Homo sapiens: one gene and its partners. The protein of the gene in region 1 purifies or fractionates together with the protein of each later gene. This does not show direct contact. Each region holds a gene or a part of one and is shown on either strand. Other genes may lie near its edges.

Region 1 (6,983 bases):
CCTTTTATTAGCTTGCCCTATGAAGTCAAAAAGAAATGTTGAATTTCTAATGAATTTATTCTGCTAATGGAACCCTTATTACATAAAATAAGGTTTGACATAAAATATATTGGTCAGAAAGGATCGTTTTATTAGTTTTCATACATAATTTTCGAAGTTTCATTATGACTTTGTTAAGTTCATTTCCTCTGAATTAGTCAGATTTTTAACTCAGTCATCTCTACTGTCATGATAGACTTTTTTTCTTATATTATCAAAAATGCTACAAGAAGAGCAAGCTTTCAAAGGTAGATTTAAATTGTTTCTGTTGTAGAAAGGAATTGTCTTACAAGTAAGTTAGAGACTGAGAGTAGATTGTTATCTTATGGACCTATACAGAAAGAGCTTTTCTCCAATGTTTTATTTTTAAGGATTTCATTAGCATATTTCTCAAAATATTTAAGATATTCAAGTGGGTTTGATTTTCAAAATGCATCATTACATCTTGTGATAGGAAACAATTTAAAGTGAGACACAACAACTTTTATTTTACTTCATTTATTACCATCTAATTAAATAAAAACCAGCAACAAATTAAAATCTAAATCACAAAAGTAATTATCCAGTGTATTTCAAGTGCATTTTTCAAATATATAATTCAGATATTCAAGCGTTATTATATAAGCTGAATTCAAATTTCTTTGAATATATTTAAATAACATTTCAAGTATATTTATGGAATGTTAGAAATAGAACAAGCAATATTTGAAACAAAATGTAAACTTTTTAAAGTTCAGACACTTTCAAAGACAGATAAAAGTACCAGGAAGAAATCTACCTTTAAATGATATCTTTGTTAGTGGAAAATGTCTGGAAGTATCCAGAATGGCAATTTAAGTTCTGTTCACCAAATCACAAAACACCAACATCCACACTTTCAAAGACAATGTGAGATCACAATATTTGTTACAAATCAAAATATACATTACAGTTTCTTTCAGATGGCATATCCAAATCGTGTTTACTCACAGACAGATGCACCTAAATCACCAGGATTGCTATAATCCTTTGATAGTTAGGCAGAGTGTTCGTCTCGGTCTGGCGTTACAGCTGGGCTGTTTACGGAGTGTTACGGTGTACTTTTCAAGGGAGATAGGAAATCGTGTGGAAAGAAGTCTTCTAATACTAGTGGCTTTGGGTTTTTCTCCATCCGCTTCCCCTACTTTTTCTCCCCTTGTGGGGGTGGGTGAGATGATGTTTAAATATTGTATTATTATTCCTTTTTAAAGGAAGAGATTGTTTGCACTGCGGAGTGGAATATTAGGAATTGAACAGAAGTTTACACTTAATAAGGACTTTGAGAAGGGTAATAATTTCGGCTCTTGATTAAATCATCCTCTAAAGTTTTTCCAAACTTTTCGGGTTGGTCAGGATCTCTCTTGCCAGTCGCCACGTTTGTTTGGCAGCGTTTTCCAGAGCTGAGTGAGGTTTGCCTTGAAACAGATCTAAGTTCGGTAGAAAGTAGTGGGGACACCGCCGGCACTGCAGGCAGGAGATAAGTTGCAGCAAAATCCCGTTCAGCCGATCACCCAGGCAAGACTCGTCCCAGTCCGACTCTCGGGGATGCTTTTCACACTCGTAGGAAACCAGAGTCTTCATATGGTAATTGTTCAAGGGCTGGCCCGGCAGTTCAAGGTGACGATCCCTTAAGGTTTTGAGGATGGAGAGGCACTTCTTTCTGCAGCCCCCCATCTGCAGTCTGTTCTCTGCCTCCGCGAACTGCAGCACCCAGGCGTCGCTCTCCGCCGAGCTCTGCTTGCCGGCCAAGGAGTGGCACTCCTTGGACAAGAGATTGAAACCTTCCGCCTTGACCTCCGCCACCCGGTTGGGTCCCGGCCAGGGGATGTGGGGAAGTGGCCAGTGGGCAGCACTCCTCGGCCAGATCCCGGTGCATTTAAAGGCCGGCGTGATCTGCACCACGTACCTATCTCGGATTCTCAGTTTCACTTCGCTGGTGTCTGCCACCATCTTTACCACATCCCGGTAGCTACATTTGTCTACCGCTTGAGCCACCAGCGTCTGAAACCTGGACCGGATTTTGCGCGCCGAGAGGTAGCCGGAGGCGGTAATGAATTCCACCCAGAGGGACATGCTCCTCTTGCGCCCGTCGCTCAACTTCAGCACCGCGCAGCCGGGCAGTGAGCCATCGTCCACGAAGTTGAACACCCCCATTTGGTTGAGATAAAGCACCACTTCAAATTCGGTGGGGGAGATGACCTCGAGGCCCTCGTAGCGATTGTCCATCTCGTTGAGAGAGCTGATGAACCGCGGCTCCTGCACTTCCACTTCCTTCAGTACGTCGGAAACTACTTTGCAGACTTCCCGGATAGTTTTGGCAATGGCAGCTTTCCTGGCTTGGCATTTTTCGTTGTAGTATTTATTCAGATGGTAGACCAGCTTGGCCTGGGCCGCAATCATGTTGGGGCAGAGATCCGGATTGTACACCGGAGTCTCGCAGTAAGCTGTGGGATCCAATGCGGCTGCTAGAGCTGGAGCCAACTTCGGTGGAGAAACGGGCCGCAACACTCAGAAATGGATCAAAAATGCCTTTCGGAAGTGCTGCAGCGTTGGTTTCCCTGCTGCTGCTGCTGCTGCTGCTGCTGCTGCTGCTGCTGCTGCTGCTGCTGCTGCTGCTTTTCCCTTCCTTTTATCTTTGAGCCCAGCCGTTCTTAAAGTGAAAGACTGTCCTCCCCCCTCTGCTTGTCTCTCTTCCTCTTTTAAAGAATCCTTGTGTGAGAGAACCGCATGGAGAGATCACCTTCTCAGGAATAAAAAACAAAAGTTGCGCTGAGACCCAGCAAAGCTCTTCCAGTAGTCAAAATAAGCACCCCTTTCCGTATTTATTTGCGCTTTCCCGTAATCATTGTGTGTGCAGCACTGTTAATCAAATGGAGGAAAAGTGTGCTGAGTGTGTGTCCGGGGTGAGTGTGCGTGTGTATATGTCAGAAGAAGCTGCTGTTGGTTTGTCTAAGAGCCCAGATGCACTCGTGTGGAAATTATAAAGGCAGGGCCAGGCAGGCGGGCGGCCAATCGCCACTGGGCTCGTCACGACAGCCTCCTTCAGCTCCAACCCGGCTAATTAATCCCCACTCATGGATATAGGCACACAAACTAAAGGTAGGAGGCTGCTGCCGGCGGAAAACCACTCAGGCCACCTAGACAGTTTGGAAATCAAGAGGAATCTCTCAGCTTTGGTATTACTTGAAGCATATTGACGTTTTGAAAAGACTTGGCAAAGCGGCTCTCTTCTGTGCCGAAAACCTGCTTGTCTTTTACCGCTGAAATGCAAATACAGGTGTATTAATGGGCATCCATCAATTAGTGATCTTGACGGGGTTTTCTAAAACAAAATCACTAACTTGCATTTAGAGTAAGATAATTAACGTCTGTTAATCCTTGGGGTCTTCTTAAATGCAGGTTGAAAGTTTGTTCTTTCATGCAGACTACTGGCATATGGAAGTTGGCTTTAGATGGAGGAGTACCTGTGTAATTTTCTCATTCTGGATGTTCCTATATGTTAAAATGATTTTTTGAAACGTTATGGAGGTAGTATGCTCTTTTTTTACTTATGTTTTTTTCTTTTCTCCATTTGTTGAATCTGAAAATTATTGCTGAGTGTGTGAGATGTTCTACCCCTGTTTAAGTTAGGATATTTAAAAAATATTTCGTACATCCCTCTGCCCCAGCAGATGCAGTCTTTGCACTTTGGTGGACTTGCCCAGCATTACAAGCAGGACACAACGCTATATATGCACTTATAGAAACATTTGAAAAATAAATTGTCTGTGGGATGGACAGAGTACTTTAGCGTTATTTCATAGTGACCTGTATTTTAGTACATAAAATTCAGGTGAGATCATAGAGATCAAGCTTCCTCACAGATAACTATCCCGAAAAATTGAAGGTTTGGGGTATCTGGCTTGTTTACAGATGTATAATTAAGGATATATCTCCTGTCTTAAGTGTCCTTAAGTGGTGACCTGGCAGTAGACTTCTAATTTTATACTATTTCGTGTGATTTAATTAAGGGAAAATGGTTAACATTTGCAAAGAAAATTAACTTGCAGTTATCTGGGGGGTTTTTTGGATTTAAACATCATTTTGAAAACAAAAATGAAATAAATCATTTCATTTCTGAATTTTGGAACCTGGAAACAGGAGGAGGAATTTTTTTTTCTAGTTGGTGGTCCAGTTGTGTCCTCAAAGTACAGGAAACTAAAGAAATACTACTTAGTGGTTACGTTGTGGTTTTTAAAACTAGGTGGATTTTTTTAATTGTCTACCTTTAATTTAGATGCCACGTCTTTCCAATTAAGAATATTTCCCGTCAAATCCTATAACTCCCGGTAACATGTTTGTAGACACTTTCAGAGTCACTTTTAACAAGATATTCTTCAGGGCTCCCACTTGCTACTTAAGCTTTTGATTTTTGTTTGTGTGTTTTGTTTTGCACAGGCACAGCATCACAAAACCACCTATTATTTAATTTCTCCTTATCCAACAGTGATAGATTCCAATTTAGCTGAAAATAGTATACATTGGGGTGCGTGGCACCCAGCTACTCTATTTCCCAAGAACCTTCCATCCCCTTAAGAGCAGGGTCTGGGAACACCCAAAAAACCCCTCCCCACTTTGCCGTCATCGCGGGTGAATGCACCACTACCTTTTGGCAGTTGGAGGGGAGACCCATCAGAGCCGGAGAACCTGCAGCCACGACGGCGAGGATGTGCAGTGGTCTCTGGGGAAACGCCGCCTTCTGCCCTCACCCGGCGCGTGTGGCCCTGTGCCGTCCGCTCGCCGCCTCTCTCTCGCTGCTCCGCATTCCCGTGCCCTCTTACTTTCCTCTCTGGGCTCAAGATCGCTACGCTTTATTTCTGCGTGAGCTTATTTGAAAACCTTACTTGGTGTCCCGGCTTACTCTCCACGTCTGCTCCAGACCACGGTCTGCCCACGCACCCCTCAGCCTGCACCGCCCACGTCCGGCCCAGGTGTGGTCGCAGCCAAGCCCCAGCCGCGGGCCCCTGCGCCCTGCGCTCTCTCCCTTGGGTTCAGGCCAGAGATGCTTGCCCCAAGACCTCGCCCCTTGCCTTCTTGGGCCACCTGCAGAACACCCTTGGTTGTCAAGGACGTGAGACAGCCGAGGACGGGGAGGCCCCAGGGCTGTTCGGGGGACCTTAAGTGGGTCCAACGGGAAGGACGCGGGCCTGCGAGGGATGCCGGTCGGGCCTGGCTGGAGCCAGGCGCGCAGGTGGCGCATCTTCGGGGCTCACTGTGCAGCTTAATTGGGTTAAAGCGAAGCTAAACACCGAAGCACTTTGTGCAAACTAATTGGTGCAACCAGCGCCTTTTCACTAACGATTTGCACTTTGAGAAAGAAAAATGGATGGTGAGAAAAGGTATACTAGGAAACTCATTAGATCTAGAGTGTTCAGGAAAGTGAAGTCATTTAGTTTAAAGGACGCCAGGACTGTGTTTTCTAAGCTGCTTCCTTAAGCACCCCTCACACAAGGAGCTGAAGGTGATTTACATAACATAGGATTCACCGGTCCGCGATTATCACTGTGGGTGAACTGGGCGCCCTGGAATGAATAATACTCTAGTGCAAGTACTGCTTGTTGCTGCAACACAGTGATTTTCTATTACACTGAACACGTGAAATGAATTGCCTTCTGTAGCTGAATCCTTTCAGTGATCGTAGACGCCCCTCATTGTTGAAGCGAGAATTAAGCTATTCGGAGAAGCGTGTTTTCCATCCCCGAAATTTTTTTATGGAAATGACCTATAGAGAGGGATTGCAAATAACAGTACATTTTTGTGCAGTTCAGCCGATTTTAATCTAGGCTTGGGGGATATATTTATTTTATGGGAGTAATATATTTAACTATTTTTCAGTGAATTTTAAAAAAATATCATTTGACCTATTAAACTAGTTATGTCAAATGATTATGTAGTACATAGAGATGGCTTAATATACATTTATGTATTAATGTGAAAAGTTTTTTTAAAAAACTCCAGTTATACCAGTCTTGCAATATTTTTTGTTGTAAATATACTCAGTGCTACTAGAATAAAATTGTGTGTGTGTCATGCTTTAGGATGTAAATACTTAATTGTTTTCAGTGGTAGGCATGCAGACATCTTTGACATGAGCTAATAATAGAATGATAATTGAGGAAAACTGGCCTAATTGAAGGAAAAAAATCTCAAGAATCTCATGATTTAATGATAGTTTGAAATGCTTATATTGAATGGTATTTAGAATTTTAATGCCTAACTGACTTTTACATTGCATTTACTTAGTTTATGAGGCAGGCTCGATTTAAAATGTACCAGTTAGGAAAAAAAAAAAAAAAAGCAATAAGGACATAGCACACCATTATCATAAATGTTAGTAGTATTAGTGAATATAAAATAATTAAATATTGTGATCCTTAACACTTCGAAGCGTTCGAAATAACAGTGGCAAAACAACTTTGCCTCAAGTAGTATTTCCTAAATAACTTGTCTCCACTTCTGCAGACCTGCTTACTTATATGGGATATACAAAGTAATTCATAAATAGTGTCATTATTAAGCTTAAAGAAAAACCCTGTTATGTTGAGAAATACAAGAATGCAATATTTCTTTGTTTTCGAAAAAAACCTGATTTAAATTTGAATTGCATGTTCACAAATCTCAGTAATTGTAACCTTTCATCTGGAAAAAAGGTATCTGTTAAAGGATATGCACATACATGTTAAGTGCTTATATAGATATTGTTTGGTGTTTTTTCATTATCTGCTAGCTGCTAGTCTATTCACAAGTATTAATGAATTTAAAGTTTTATTTTTTTAATATGTGCTTATTACGCTGGGGAGATAAAAAGAATATGAAGTTGAGTTTATTACATTATTTATCCCTACTGCTGGAGTGGCTTTGAAGGCTCATTGTAGCCATCTGATTTC
Region 2 (7,028 bases), on another chromosome or scaffold:
GATTTCCTAGATAAGTTGCATTAATCACATAGCAATGACGTGACCATTTAAAATTTGTACAGTCTTCCTAATGAATTGTGCATCCCTGAAGACCTCCCAGAACTTGAAATAAAGTCACTAAAGAATTAGTACTGAGATGTCAGTGGTTACTTACATTTAGACAAACAACAACAAAACTCTCTTTAGATTCTATAGGTTTTTAAAATAGAATTTATTAAAATTAGCTCCTTACTATAAATATTACCTAAGCAGTCCATGCATTCCTTCAAGAAGGATTACAAAACAAGGGTAACGGGTGTTCCTTATAGCTGGAGGTCTATTTGCTCTTGCAATTAGAGAAGTGGGAAGGAATCTTTTTCATTGGGGGAAGGAAAAGATGAAAAATTTAAACATATCTCTTAACTTTGCTCTTCAGATGATGTTATAAGAACAATTAGCTATCTACAGACCATTATCATTAATCAATATTTCTGTATGAGCAGATGGCATTGGAGTGGGTAATGGAGGTAGAAATATCCAATGGAAACCACAAGGTAACACCTATAAACATTCACAGAAAGCTGGGGAAACATGGATGAATGGGCTTCCCCTTCCAGGGCAGTGGCACAGGCCAGCAAAGACCTCAAAACTGAAGACTATTATTTAGGTCTCAAGAAATCAGGCAGTTCATGAATAATTTCGATTACAATTGCCCCAGTAACAAACACATAGTCCATATAAGCAATGCAATGCATGTAAAATCATGCGGGCTGTTAGAAAGTTTATTTGGGTTTTTTGTTTGTTTGTTTGTTTCAAGAAGATAATGTAGCTCTATGCAAGGGTCTTCACAAGGGTACAACCTAGAAAAACAGGAAAACTAGTGGCTGCATAAAATAGCTTGCTTCTCTCTCTCCTGATTCTGTCTGAACCAATATTTGATTATATTTTATTCAGGGGCACCTCAGCTTCAAGTAAAGCCAAAACTCCTTTGCAGATTGAGATGGGGGCTGAAGAAATCTATTCATTGTTTCTGTTAGTCTATAGGAAATAGAAATTATTTGATTGTGACTTCAGGGCCAACCTGATTTTATCCACCACACCAACTCATTCCACACAGCGAGTTAGCTGGTTATTTCTGGAGATAAAATATTAGCATCATTGCATCAGCATCATTGTACCACACCTTTGACCAATTGCCACTTCTTATCTAAATGTCATATCATTCGTTTTTCATGATATGCCCTCAAGACCTGAGTCCTCTTTCCCCTAGTTCATTAGTGATTGATAATCCTCAGTGGGGAATTTGCAGGAGTCAGATATTGAAATATCTACACACATGCAACAGGTGTCAGATAAGTAGTGGTGCCTGAATCAGATTCTAGGTAAACCTAATATGATGTTAAAATCAAAACAGCTCAAATAATCTAAATCTCCAACTAATTTCCAGCATAGCCAAGCCCTGAAGTTTACTCAAAAACTGTAGTGTAGTCTAGATACTGTTTGGAATTATTATGGGAAGAAGAGAAGGGAGGAAACTTTTTTTTTTTTTTAGCTATTCCTGCTGCTCTCAGCTTTTATCTTATTCACTGATGCTGGAAAATCTGGATTAATTTATACCCTTGAGTATTATTAGAGGCACAGCCTCTATCCAGAGGAGCAGAACTAACATGACCTGCAGACATCCCCTGAGTTTGTATCTCTGTACCCGTAAAACTCACTGAGGAACATGGCTTTGAATGTGGGCCCAGGTATGAAGGTAAACAGGCTCTGCAAGTGTTTATGACAATGCAAGATTAACTTTAATATTTAAGGAAAAATTGACTTTAGGAAAAGCAAGCTAAGACAAAAATAGTAACACAAAATATTTTCTCCTGATATTAAAAAACAACCCTCAAGAGTTTTTAACATTTATCCATCTATGTAACTTTGCTACAACCTGTCTAAATTCATCCTTTGTCTCTAATATTGAAATTCCTCTGGTCAACAATTTTGTTGATTTTTAAAATATTATTTTATCCACAAATCTTCATTGTATCTTCTTCTTTAAATTGGTATGCACTTACAAAAATATCCACCAAAATATTATTATTATAAATATTTTGAACATGAAATTCATTCAGAACAATAACCAAACAAAACAAATCCCCCAGTGGCATAAAGCCCCAAATCTCCAGTTTCTCACATCTCCAGGAGAATTCCTGCAGTGAAAACAGCAATACTGGCACAGACAATATAAACTGTTACTCTGCTTGAAAAGTCACAAGGGACTACACAGGAAGAGCTGACTCTATATTGCTGTTTTCCTTTACAGTTCTAAATACAGGGACAACTTTCACTGTGGAGCTCTGACTTACATGAATGTTTTGTAATGGAAGCCAGTGCATTCAAACCACTTAAAAGCAAATTATGTGATCATCTTGCCATTGCAACATGATTTAAATTTTTGTGGACCATTTGTTGTAAAGATCCACTAAAGCATCAGAAGATATTAAGTCTCTCTCTAGGGTTTGTCTAACTTTCTTCTTAGTAGGAGATGGTTCTGAGCACTTAAGGGTCACACTTAGAAAAGCAACATCATTAAAACACATACTTAAAATCACAAGTGCACATGAACACCTAAATCTTTTAACTTATGAAAGTTAACAAAATCGCAATCGTGAATTTTAAATAAAATTTCTCATTTGGGGTATCTATCTAAGAAATAAGTGCTAATACTTTTGCAAAAACTGTGGGAACACAGTTATTTATTAAATATTTCAAGTCCAGAGGGATCACTTTTTTCTCATTTTTTTGTATAAAAACTGGTTCATTGTCCATATTTAGTTTATATATGTCATTTAGAATCCACTTACTGTTAGATGCTGGAACAGCCACGCCCTCATGATATTTGTGGCTACTTTGGGAAAGATGCCACGCTTTTTGTGACGCTTTTTGTCCTTATCAGGGTCATCATCGTCACCTGTGCTGGGGGAAGCTACACTGTTGTCCAAGCCATCACCTGCAAACATAGCGAATCAAATTTTGACTGATGCTACCTTGACATGCTTTATTCAAATAGAATGCCTTTGGATATAAACAAAACCAAAAGAGCAAATTTAAATGATTAATAGTTTCTTTGGTACTGTTTTTTTGTTGTGTTTTGTTTTCCAAGACAGAGAAAGAACAAGGCCTAGGCTCAAGAGCAGTCAGGTCTAAAGAACTTCTTCCAAAGAACATTGCCAAAAGTCAAAGGGAATGGAGGGAAATATCCAATCCCCTTGTGGCTTTGTTGCTATGGTAATTATTCCAATATGTATAGCTGAGACAGGTTAAGTGTAACTCCTACCGGGGAGTTAAACATGGTGGCAGTCATTAGCTGTGGCGCTATGGCTGCCTGGGCATTCAAATCCCACAGTCATTGACATTGACTTGTGAGAAGATTCATTTAAGATATCAACTATTTCCACAAGTGATCTATCTTAAGACTAGTTAAACTAGGATGGGGAAATGTAGGTAATCCATCATATAAGCAGTTTGACATAGGAATGCTTCAAATAAAATATAATTTTTCTTGTAATAGAGAGAAAGCATCAAGTTTAGTAAAGGAAAAACCCCTGACATAGTTTCTTAATTAAAAAACAATTACTGTGTAAATCAAATAAGGTAATGCTAAATTAATAGTAAATTAGAATTGTATTACACTAATAATTCAGGCAGTTTCTAAAATTCATGCTAGGTAAACCTAGCATTTTTCACACTGAAAAATCACCTGCTAACATATTCCTCTATATTGGATCCTATTTTTCTATTGATTTTTATTATAACATTTACACTCTTTATTCTAGAAAATATTTTGGCTCTGTGACATAATGAAATTTAAAAAGTTAGTATTTCTTTTTTAAAATGCCATGTTTAATAAGAAAAAATAAAAATTTAACCCATATAACTGTTCAAAATAAGTTACAAGGTACAAATGGAAAGTAGGTATTTTTTGCCTTGGCATCAAAGTCAAAAAGGAAAACAACAAAGGACAAGACCCATTACACTAAAAAGTAGCTTAGCTCGGTCAACCGTTCTCTTAGAAACCGACAGGTTGATCTGGGCCCAAACGGAAGAGCTATAGCAGCCAGGCTTAGAAATGAGGTAAAAAAAAAATACACCCAAGAGCACATTCACTGGGTTAAATAAGCCACTGGAGAGCCAACTACACGACCCAAAGAACCTGAAACTTTGGTAAGACAAGTTTCCTGCACATAGCCTCAGGTTCATTTCCATGGCTTCATGAATTTCTGTATTTCTCATTTCTGTTATTAGGTCCTACATAAAAAAATAATTCTCTAGTTCAATTTCAGTTATTTCTGTCTAATCTATAGTAGGTATGTTGCAACTAATCAACTGTTTTTAACAGCTCCCTCAGCAGACCCATCTCTCTCCTGTGAAAAAAAGAAAAGAAAAGCATTCCTCAATTTTTTTTTTTCAATTGCCTTAACTTGTACTGAGATGAAGTTTAGAAAGTTTGTTGGGTGAGGAACAAACTAATTCCAACATTTCTACTATTATTACAGAATATGCTATAAATGCAAAACTTTTGCAAAACTTTTCTGATTCTAAACTTTTATTCATTAAAAATCTGTAATTTTATTATATTTAAAATCTATCTGTTTCATTAAAAGTTTAACAGAAACATATCTTGTGTTCACTTGGAAAAGATCATGAAAACCCACCACTCCAAAGCCATTGTTGTATCAGTGAAGAAAATGCTATGTTCTCTGACTGGGCCAAGGTCATGTACCCTGGCATGGAACTACTGGGGTCTGTGCTGTTCCAGACCCCTACATCTGTAAATCAGCACTCCTTCCACCCAACCAAACTCTTTATTTGCATAACCAAGTATTTTATGAGAAGTCCCCTTGGATTTGCCTAATAAATTCTTTGAAAGTCCAGTATTTAAACAGCCTTTTTATTCAGAGAAGCAGTTTACCATATAAAATAACAATTCATTAAAGAAACATGAGAAAAGAAAACAACTCAACAGCATTTAAATTTTCAATGGGCTAATCCACTTTCAATATGCAAAAGGTAACCAAGGAAAAGACACATACGACCTGATCATTGATTAAAAATGAAAAGCTTATAACCTTACAATACTGTTTTCACCACCTCCCCATGATTATTTTCCACCTTTAAAAAAAATAGCCTTTTTATCCACCTCAAACCCCTTCAGATTAATTTAGCAAGCAATGCATAGTGCCTGCCTAGAAGAGAATTCATTGATAATTTATGGAAATATCTACTATAATCCAGCAGAGATGACTTTTTTCCAGCTTTGTGCATCAATAGATAATCAAGGCCTTAAAGCAACCTTAGCTTCCCATTACCTCAGGCAAAAGAATTCCTGAAAGCGTGCCTTGAGGGCACCTGAATTATATACTCCATTAGGAGAGGAAGGCTTTCTGCATTCCATGTGTAACACTCACCAGAACCTTTCCTGTTTATTTCTGCTGTATGAAAGCAGAAGCATTAGGAACAGAATTTTTTAAGTGAAGACTTATGTAGATACAATGGAGAAACCTTTCAAGCAGGAGCCAGATCACCCCCTTCAGTCCCTGGCAGTGACCTCTCCTGAATAAAAGGTTTCTATTACATCATTAGCTCAAGCCAAAAACAGCCTTGGCTTAATGCACAGTTTGTTCTTCCTACTGTTTTTAGGCAAATACAGCTACTTTACTCCCATCTGGGAGGGAAATTACACTGCTGGGTTGTAATCTAAGACAAGATTTTCATTGGAAGCAAATGCTTTCAATCCAGTGTAAATACTGGTGCATGTTCAGAAAAGCCTAAAACAATAAACCCTGCTCCTTTCCGACACAAGTTAGGGAAATGGAGAAGATGGGGAAGGAGAAGAGCATAATAAAACAGACTATTCTAAAAGCAAACACTTTCATAGATTTTAATAAATTGTTTAACCTCTTCCACTTTCTAAAATTGAAAATTGATCTGGAAATGTCTCAACCTCAGAGGAAAGTCTAAATGGTCAATTGTACCTTTAGCATTTCCATTCACTCCGCAATTTGATATAGTCACCTCAATGTGGTCTCTCGAGAATTTCTTTCCTTTTTTACTTTTGAGATCACTAAACAAACTTGGAGAACCGCCGGCCGACCACACGGCAGCAGGCAGCAGCTCTGAACCACATTTGTAAAATGTCAGCAGTGACTTCATTCCTGGAGCTGACTTCTCCTGCCGCCAAATGAAGGCAAACTGAAAAGGTGGAAATAATCATAAAAATGATGCTAGTCCATAAACAAGCTTACAGCCTCATTAGGATAGCAGTAGGCTCCAGTGGGTGATTTATGCTCGTTTTGCTGATGCTATGAGGAAATGCCATAGGGCGACTTTAGCCAACCGCTAATGGTTTCTGACAGCTTCTTAGCAACTAGTGCAAGCAACGTTGTGGCGTTTGCTAGTGACAGAAACTGAAAATGTCATATTATCTGCCCATGTGTCATGAAGTCCGTGTGGCAATTAACTAGCAGGCCAGTGACTGAGGGGCCAGAGGCTCCTGAAAATGGCCTTTGGCTATGCAGAGGCAGCGGCCGGGGCTGCGCACACACAGGCCGCACATATGCAACATTCTAATGCAGAAATCCTCTCCCTGCAACTTCCTGGGCTCTGATGAGACCGGGCCACTCCAGTCTCTTTTTTCCCCCTCATTGAAGTGAAACTCTGGGTTCCTCTCTCTCTAGGCACAGGCTCGGGCATTATAAGACTCTAAAGCAATCTGCTTTGATACGATTATCGGAATGGCTCCTTAATTGGCAATACCTGGTTCTGTGCCTCTTGGATGCTGGACTCAAAGGTGCTAGCTACAGTACTTTGCTACTCTCTCACAAATTAGTCTAAAAGGATTTAAGATCACTGGAGCAGACTCATTGCCTGTCAGATTTCAAGGAGCAGAGGAACTCTGCACAGCAACAAGACACTATTTAAAAAAACACCAGGTTTCTAACGAGCAGGGGGAGAATCTTGGCCACACTTTTCAGTTTCCGAGCTATCAAAACCATGCACTA
Region 3 (7,028 bases), on another chromosome or scaffold:
TGAGACAGGAGAATCACTTGAACCCAGGAGGTGGAGGTTCCAGTGAGCCAAGATCACACCACTGCACTCCAGCCTGGGTGACAGAGTGAAACTCCATCTCAAAAAAACAAACCAAGATGGCCCGAATTTTGAAACTTTATACTCCTCACTACTCTGCAAAAATATCTGTGACCACTCTTCTGTTCGGTGCCCAGATGGTACACAATGAAGTATTGAGCAAATGCTTTTAGCGTTGGTTTTGGCATCCAGCCCCTTTTGGTAAATCTGCTCCAAATTCACCTTTTGCTCAAAAATTTGTCTTCTCCCAGAAGTAGATTTATTCTCTCCCATTTTATATTTATTTGGTGTGAGCCTTTTTGTTATTATTTCCTTTCTCTTTACAAAGGCGGAAGAGACGGAATTTCAACAAGCAAGCGACAGAAATCCTGAATGAATATTTCTATTCCCATCTCAGCAACCCTTACCCCAGTGAGGAAGCCAAAGAGGAGTTAGCCAAGAAGTGTGGCATCACAGTCTCCCAGGTAAGCAGCACCTCAAAAGCCTCAGCCTGTAGCCTGGCCATGGCGGGGCCTCCGGGGCAGGCTCTTAGAGGTCTTGCTTTACTGGACATTCATGCCTTGCAAGTTCCATCAGCTATAGCCTTAAAATATCAAGGTAAGCACTTGATGTGTATGCGTATAAGTGAGTTTCTAGGTAAGTACTTGGCAAAACTTGAGAAGAACCAGCAGAAGGAAGAGAAGAATAAGTAGAGTACAATGTAAAAACAGGATTAGGGTTCTTCCCATCGAGCACTCCTTTGCTTCAAATGGGTGAGGTGTCTAAAGTGTACTAGGAAAGTTATCTGCATTCCTCATGCTGTTTTTTCAAATTCAGTCAATTCCTTAGCCATTTTTTGCCCAACCCAGGAACTTTAAGAGTCAGTGAATGGAACTAGTTGTTATATAGCCTTTTAAATGAAAGAACTTAAATGTCTCCTCTTGATGTGCTGACTCTATAACTGATGGGAGTGTAGGAATTTTAACATGTCACTGCGATTACATTGGAATGGTGAACAAAATGTCACTGAATGCCCCCTTCCCCCAAAGAGCAATAACCATAACAGGTGGTGTCTGATGACTTGGAAAGATACATGACATAAAATTTTTATAGGCCTAGAGTTTTCAACACGAATATGAAGCAGAGAAGTAGGCAATAATTATGTGTACGTGTATTTTGTCCACTCAAAAGATCCACCCAAACTTCTTATTCAGTCTGAACCTCAAATACCACCACTGGTTTCTAATTGAGAACCATAGTGATAATTCTGAAATCTATCGGAGAAGGTTTTTCTTAGAATTTTGTCACATGCAGGAGAATTAAATGTACTGATATTTCCATTAAAACTGGGGAGGGGAGGGAGTAGTGAAGGCTACTGTAGCGAGAAATTTCACTTACCATTTTTCAAATGAAGTAGATGCTCTTTTATATAAACTAAGCATCTGTACCTCCTTGAATTGAATCCTGACTTCTGTTAATCCCTGCAGGGTGCTGATCCCATCAACCTGTGTTTAGCTGTACAGAATTAGGTCCAGTCAGAATATAGAGCTCCACAAAAGTATTGACAATGAAGGGACTGTCCAAGCCTTCCCAACAAACTAAGATGATTTTACAGCAGCAAATATCCTTGAAAACATTCTTTCAGATAAAGCAGAATGAATTGACTCCTTTTTAACCTGGGCCTTCCTTAGGTGCTTTGACCCAGCTGGAGGTCATTTTTAGTCTTGACAGTTCTGGGAAACGGGAACGTCAGCGGTCAAACTCAAGTAGCCTAGTTTTTTCTAGGGCTGTCACCATTCTTATCCAAATCTAAACCCCTTTTCCACAAAAAAGGGAATTAATGCTTTTTGATACTTGCTACATGTTTGAGGAATGCTTCTAGGTATGGACCACAAATATGCAGCAAATATCAAATCACTGAATTTTATCATGGAACCTTCTGCTTTTAAAATATAATTAAATTACTACTGTCTGAATTCCAAGTGTGGAATTCAGAATTTCAACTTCCTGTTGAAGGTAAAAGGAATTCTCCTGGAGGTAATTTGTAGTATAGCTGGATACAAGTTAAAATCCTGATCTGTTCCCGCAACCTTCACTTCCTTCATTATGGAAACTCAAGGTACAAATAGTGTGTCCATTAAAATCCTTATTTACATATTGTGTCACCTTTCCCTTTCCTCTGTCCATGCCAAAGTCATGCCATTCTTTCTTCCCCATCACATCTGTCTCTCCCCAAAGCAACTAAGCTACCATTGCTAAACAAGTCCAATGGAAGACAGTATAATATGATGTCATAGAAGGAGCATTAAGCAAGGAGCCTATTTTTGACAAGAGTCAACTGTGGGATCCTAGGGAACTCACTCTTTCTTTTTGGATCTTAGTTGCCCCATTTACTAATCATGGTTTGTTGGATCACATGATTTATTAAATCTTTCTCCTAATTCCCAAAGCCAGGGAATACCTCTTGGGCTGTATCATTATTGTCTTTTTTTGAAGTCACAAATTCTTTTGAAATCTACTAAAAGCTATTGATTTCCCCCATGACCCAAAACAAAGATATGTTGCCCATACACCCAAATCCATCTGAAATCCGCCTATTGACTGTATCTCCTCAGATCCCTAAAGAGCCCTTTTTCTATACCAGAGCTACTCTAAGTGTGATCCACAGAATGCAGCATCAGCATCCCCTGGGAGCCTGTTAGAAATATAAATTCTTGAGTGTCACCCTAATTCTGAATCAGAATCTTTGAGGGTGAAATCTATAATAGAAATTTGTTTTAACAACTTCCCCATGAACACTTAACTTTGAAAAGCAATGTTCTATATGCTTTATCTGAGTGATCTTTTCCATGCTCACAGCTACAAATAATACCTCCATTTGAATACCTAATGGAACTTCTCCCCTGCAGCACCAAACTCATAAATTTTACTTCCTAATGGACTTCATCATGGCTCTGCCCAGAGGTTCTTCAAAATTAACTTGTTCAAAATGTGAATCAAACTCTTCCCATAAAACCTACTATTCTTTCTGTATTTCATGTCTCATTCTGTGTCTGTTATCTATACATCCCTAGTGCCTAACGCGTATTAGGCCCTTAGTCCATGACTGTTGAGTAATTAGTTCATTCATGATAACACTCATTTTATACATTGTCCAGATCATTGTCTGTTGGACAATGCAGGAAGTCCCTGAACTGACCTAGCACCTTCCTACCAGTTCCATTGTTGTCATTTAGAAGGGTATCATTCCCACAACATGTCCCCTCTTTACCCCCTTCAGCTCATATTTTTTTTACATATAATTGGACCTCAGGTATTTCTTCTTCAAAAGTCCTCTGAAATTATCTTCATCTTTTTCCCTTTTCTTTCAGCTTGTGCAGTTATCTGAGAAAAAAAATCTCCTTACCTTTTTTCTTCTTTTCCTATCCCATAAATCAAAAAGCAACCATAATTATGACTGATTCCTATGAATAGTGAAAGTTATGTCAAGAAAAACATAAATTTCAAAGTGAAACTAGATATGCAGTGATCCTGAAATACACCCAAAAGTGTCCTTCCTCCTCCAGTTTACCTCTTTTTCTGTAGACATCAGTGTTTACAATAAATAAAGCATTTTCTTATTGAATTTTTTTCTTTTTTGTTTAATATTGTGGTGGTACAGACTGATTTTTTTTTAAAAAAGAAAGGCTTGGCATTTCTGCTGTAGTATAAACTGTATAAGCCTTTCAGTGCTATCCTTATAAGATGTTTTAAGTTTGTTAATGCGTTTAAAAAATTAAGTATAGTTTTGCAACAGTTTTCTTTATCTGCCGTCGTTGGGAGTTAAATATCAATGATATGTAAGCTGTGGTACATGTGGGATCAACTCCCCCTTCCCTCACCAGATTCATAGTTTGTTTTGTAATTATATAAAAACATCGACATTTTAGTTCAAAATCATATCTGGAATGTGGGATATAAAACTTTCCTTCCCCGGGCAGGAATTATGGGGGTAAAACTTGAATTTAACTGTGTCTCCACTTGTGTCTGGCAGAGGTCTTGGTATGAAGGGAGCAGAGGTACCAGATCAAGCCAAGACACCTGCTGCGAACCACATGAAGGAAATAAATTAACAAATGAAAGTAAATTAGGTTTATTGTGTCTGCTGGCTTTAACATTTAAACCCTAGAATTCAAGGGGATAATCATTTGTATGCTACAGTTTTTCCTTATGTAGATAACACTAAGCTTTACACAAAATAGTCAGTGAAATCTGGTAGATTGAATTATATTGATCCTAAGGTCTATAGTGAAATACAGCTAAGAATCTCAGTCCACATTAAAGTTATGTAACTTCTAAAAATTTGCAATTAATCTATCACACGAAAGCACCTATATGGACATTTAAAGATCTGTGTATCTTGATGGCATCAAGCCAGCTTTCACATTGATAAACGCTAGGGGCATTTCTCCTGAAATGTTAGGTATATTTTAGTGTCATAACTGAAGATGTAAGCAAATTTAAAATGCTTGCTCTAAATTAAAAGGGTTCTAGCTTAAATGAGCAGCTCCTTTATAGGAAGATTTTTGTCACAGTGGTTTCGCTAAATTTCAGTTATATTAAACAAGAGAATCGCATTTTATGTAGTTGTCCTTTTGAAGCTCTTACTTCAGATCTTTTTACTGATGTTGCCAAATTATTATAGGATAAGACCAATTAGCTTACCTCTTCACCTCTCCCATAAAGCCTTTTTTTTCTTCTGCAATGTTTCTGAAGGATGAAATGTGAACTTTCTCATCTTCTCTTAAACTACTCTAGGTATCAAACTGGTTTGGAAATAAGCGAATCCGGTACAAGAAGAACATAGGTAAATTTCAAGAGGAAGCCAATATTTATGCTGCCAAAACAGCTGTCACTGCTACCAATGTGTCAGCCCATGGAAGCCAAGCTAACTCGCCCTCAACTCCCAACTCGGCTGGTTAGTTTTTTCTTTGATTGGGGGTGGGGGAAGGAATTGTTCTCCATTTTTATACTGGCTGTTCCTACATTGGGATTTTCTTTTAATTTGTTAGGCTTTTGATTGGTTAATTTCTGTATTTGATTGTATTTTTGGATGTTAATGTCACTTTGGGCTCTTTCTTTCATTTCCAAAGAGCAATCTGTTAGACTTTTTACAACGTGGGTTGTCTGGAGGTTTGCATTAATTTGTCTATTAAGTTAAGACCAAAGTAAATTGGTTAGCTTGAAGAGACCTCTAAATTCTCCTCTCAGGGATATCAATAAGTAAGTTAGACATAGTGCTTAGAGATAGTCTATTGGGATTCTGTCATTTGGCCTGTTTTATATAAAGCTTTTATCCTTGTCAGTTTTGCTGTTCCAACAACATAATGTCTGGGTCACTTATTAGCATGCATTCTATGCAGAAATATTTACTCTTCTAGCAAATATCTTATTAGAATGCTTTGGTATGCAAAGCCAGGCTATGAATATTTCTATATATTGTTTATAGTTGTTGTTCTTTATTGTTTTTTGTTGGTCTTCTTTATGATTATCGGTCATGAGCTATGTAATAGGCTTTGTTTCAGGAAATATGCATTATATCACTAATTTAAGAGTTTAGGTCAAAATACTATATTTTGGGGTGTGCCTTGTGTCATCAGTTCAGAATTTCTACATGTGAAAAAATGTAGTTAATAATGCAAAAAATATAACCTTTGTGTTTGTATGCTATGGAAGGCATGTGGTAATTTTTTTTTCCCTTTGGTAAAGGAAAGACAAGTATTTTCTCATTAAATAAGTTTGGTTTGACTTTGATTAGGGTGCACAGCTAAGAAAACTGATGATTCTAACTTAAAAGGTTACCAATTTAAATATGTTTGATCGTAATATGATTACAAACCTAATGTCTAACATTTTTTAGAGTATGTGGTATCTTTGACCACAAAGCTTGTTTGTCCACTAAAATAAGTTTTCTTACAGCGACTCGTTACTGGAGAAATGTAGGGTTCCACAGACTGATGTCTTCTGTGAGCTTCCAGATGCATAAATTTGTTATGATAAGGTCCTCCAAGTCACTGGGCTATACCCAGCACTTCTTTTGTGGCCTTCTTTTATCTAAATGGAATCATGCATGAAGAGTAGCCTGGGCTTTTTCAACATGGATATAATAAAACAATGTAGAATTCAATCCAGTTTTAATTTTCCCAGCACTGCAGGTTAGATTCCTATGAGGAGCATATTTACTTTTTTAGAAATATTTTGTTTTTTTCTTCCTCCATCATGGTGTGATTGACAAGGGATCAAAGCTAACAGGTTCAATAACCAGAGAGAGTTCCATCTTCTCCATCTGGTCAATTATTAAGAATTTCAGACCCAACAACACCAGTTGAACTGTGCTGCTAGGCAGACATTTTCACTTGTCTCTTTGGAAGAAGTACAATTCTGTCAACATTAGCAAAAATGCACTCAACACTCCTGCAAAGGTTATCATAATGCAAAACGATATCAAAATGACTTTTTCCTGTCCCTGGTATATCTGCATCGCAGATGGCTTAGCATGATTTATGACTAGTCCTTAGAAAAGCCCTGTGGACTTTCTTCATTACTAAATTTGTAACTATTTATTCTTTCCTAAAGCCCTTAAAAGAGAAAAATAAGCATTTTAACCCTCTATTCTGTGTTTAAGAAATATGGTTGCCTCTTATGGAATGTCAGACTATGATTACAGTTTTCTAAGGAATTTTTTTCTGGTGGCTTAAACATCATGTGACTATTCTGAGCACAAAGTAAATTATTATGGAAAATTTGAGCTAAGCCTTCCAATTGTGCGTAAGTTGTTGGAAATAATCTGCACAGGAACCCCTTTGTAGTGCTTTTTCTAAAGTAGAGGCAAAAGAAAATACTATTGTATGTGTGCAATAGCATGGAATTTTAAAAGATAAACATTTTAACAGGAAAAGTTATAAATGGGCTTTTCTGTATTTTCTTTTGCTCTTAACCAACCTAAATCATCC

Evidence for each region. Proteins that work in one complex are often made in the same cells at the same time.
Region 2: the proteins of MAB21L1 (region 1) and MEIS1 purify together in Homo sapiens (affinity purification with mass spectrometry; 3 studies listed by BioGRID and IntAct, with this or other methods). This does not show direct contact.
Region 3: the proteins of MAB21L1 (region 1) and PBX1 purify together in Homo sapiens (affinity purification with mass spectrometry; 3 studies listed by BioGRID and IntAct, with this or other methods). This does not show direct contact.

What each region holds. Positions count from the first base shown.
Region 1 is NC_000013.11:35,473,682-35,480,664, forward strand, and holds MAB21L1 (putative nucleotidyltransferase MAB21L1), read right to left. Parts: upstream 3,009-6,983; 5' UTR 2,458-3,008; coding exon 1,378-2,457; 3' UTR 108-1,377; downstream 1-107. UniProt on the Homo sapiens protein: Putative nucleotidyltransferase required for several aspects of embryonic development including normal development of the eye. It is unclear whether it displays nucleotidyltransferase activity in vivo. Binds single-stranded RNA (ssRNA).
Region 2 is NC_000002.12:66,508,098-66,515,125, reverse strand, and holds part of MEIS1 (homeobox protein Meis1), read right to left. Parts: intron 2,978-7,028; coding exon 2,832-2,977; intron 1-2,831. UniProt on the Homo sapiens protein: Acts as a transcriptional regulator of PAX6. Acts as a transcriptional activator of PF4 in complex with PBX1 or PBX2. Required for hematopoiesis, megakaryocyte lineage development and vascular patterning.
Region 3 is NC_000001.11:164,807,157-164,814,184, forward strand, and holds part of PBX1 (pre-B-cell leukemia transcription factor 1), read left to right. Parts: intron 1-385; coding exon 386-521; intron 522-4,833; coding exon 4,834-4,993; intron 4,994-7,028. UniProt on the Homo sapiens protein: Transcription factor which binds the DNA sequence 5'-TGATTGAT-3' as part of a heterodimer with HOX proteins such as HOXA1, HOXA5, HOXB7 and HOXB8. Binds to the DNA sequence 5'-TGATTGAC-3' in complex with a nuclear factor which is not a class I HOX protein.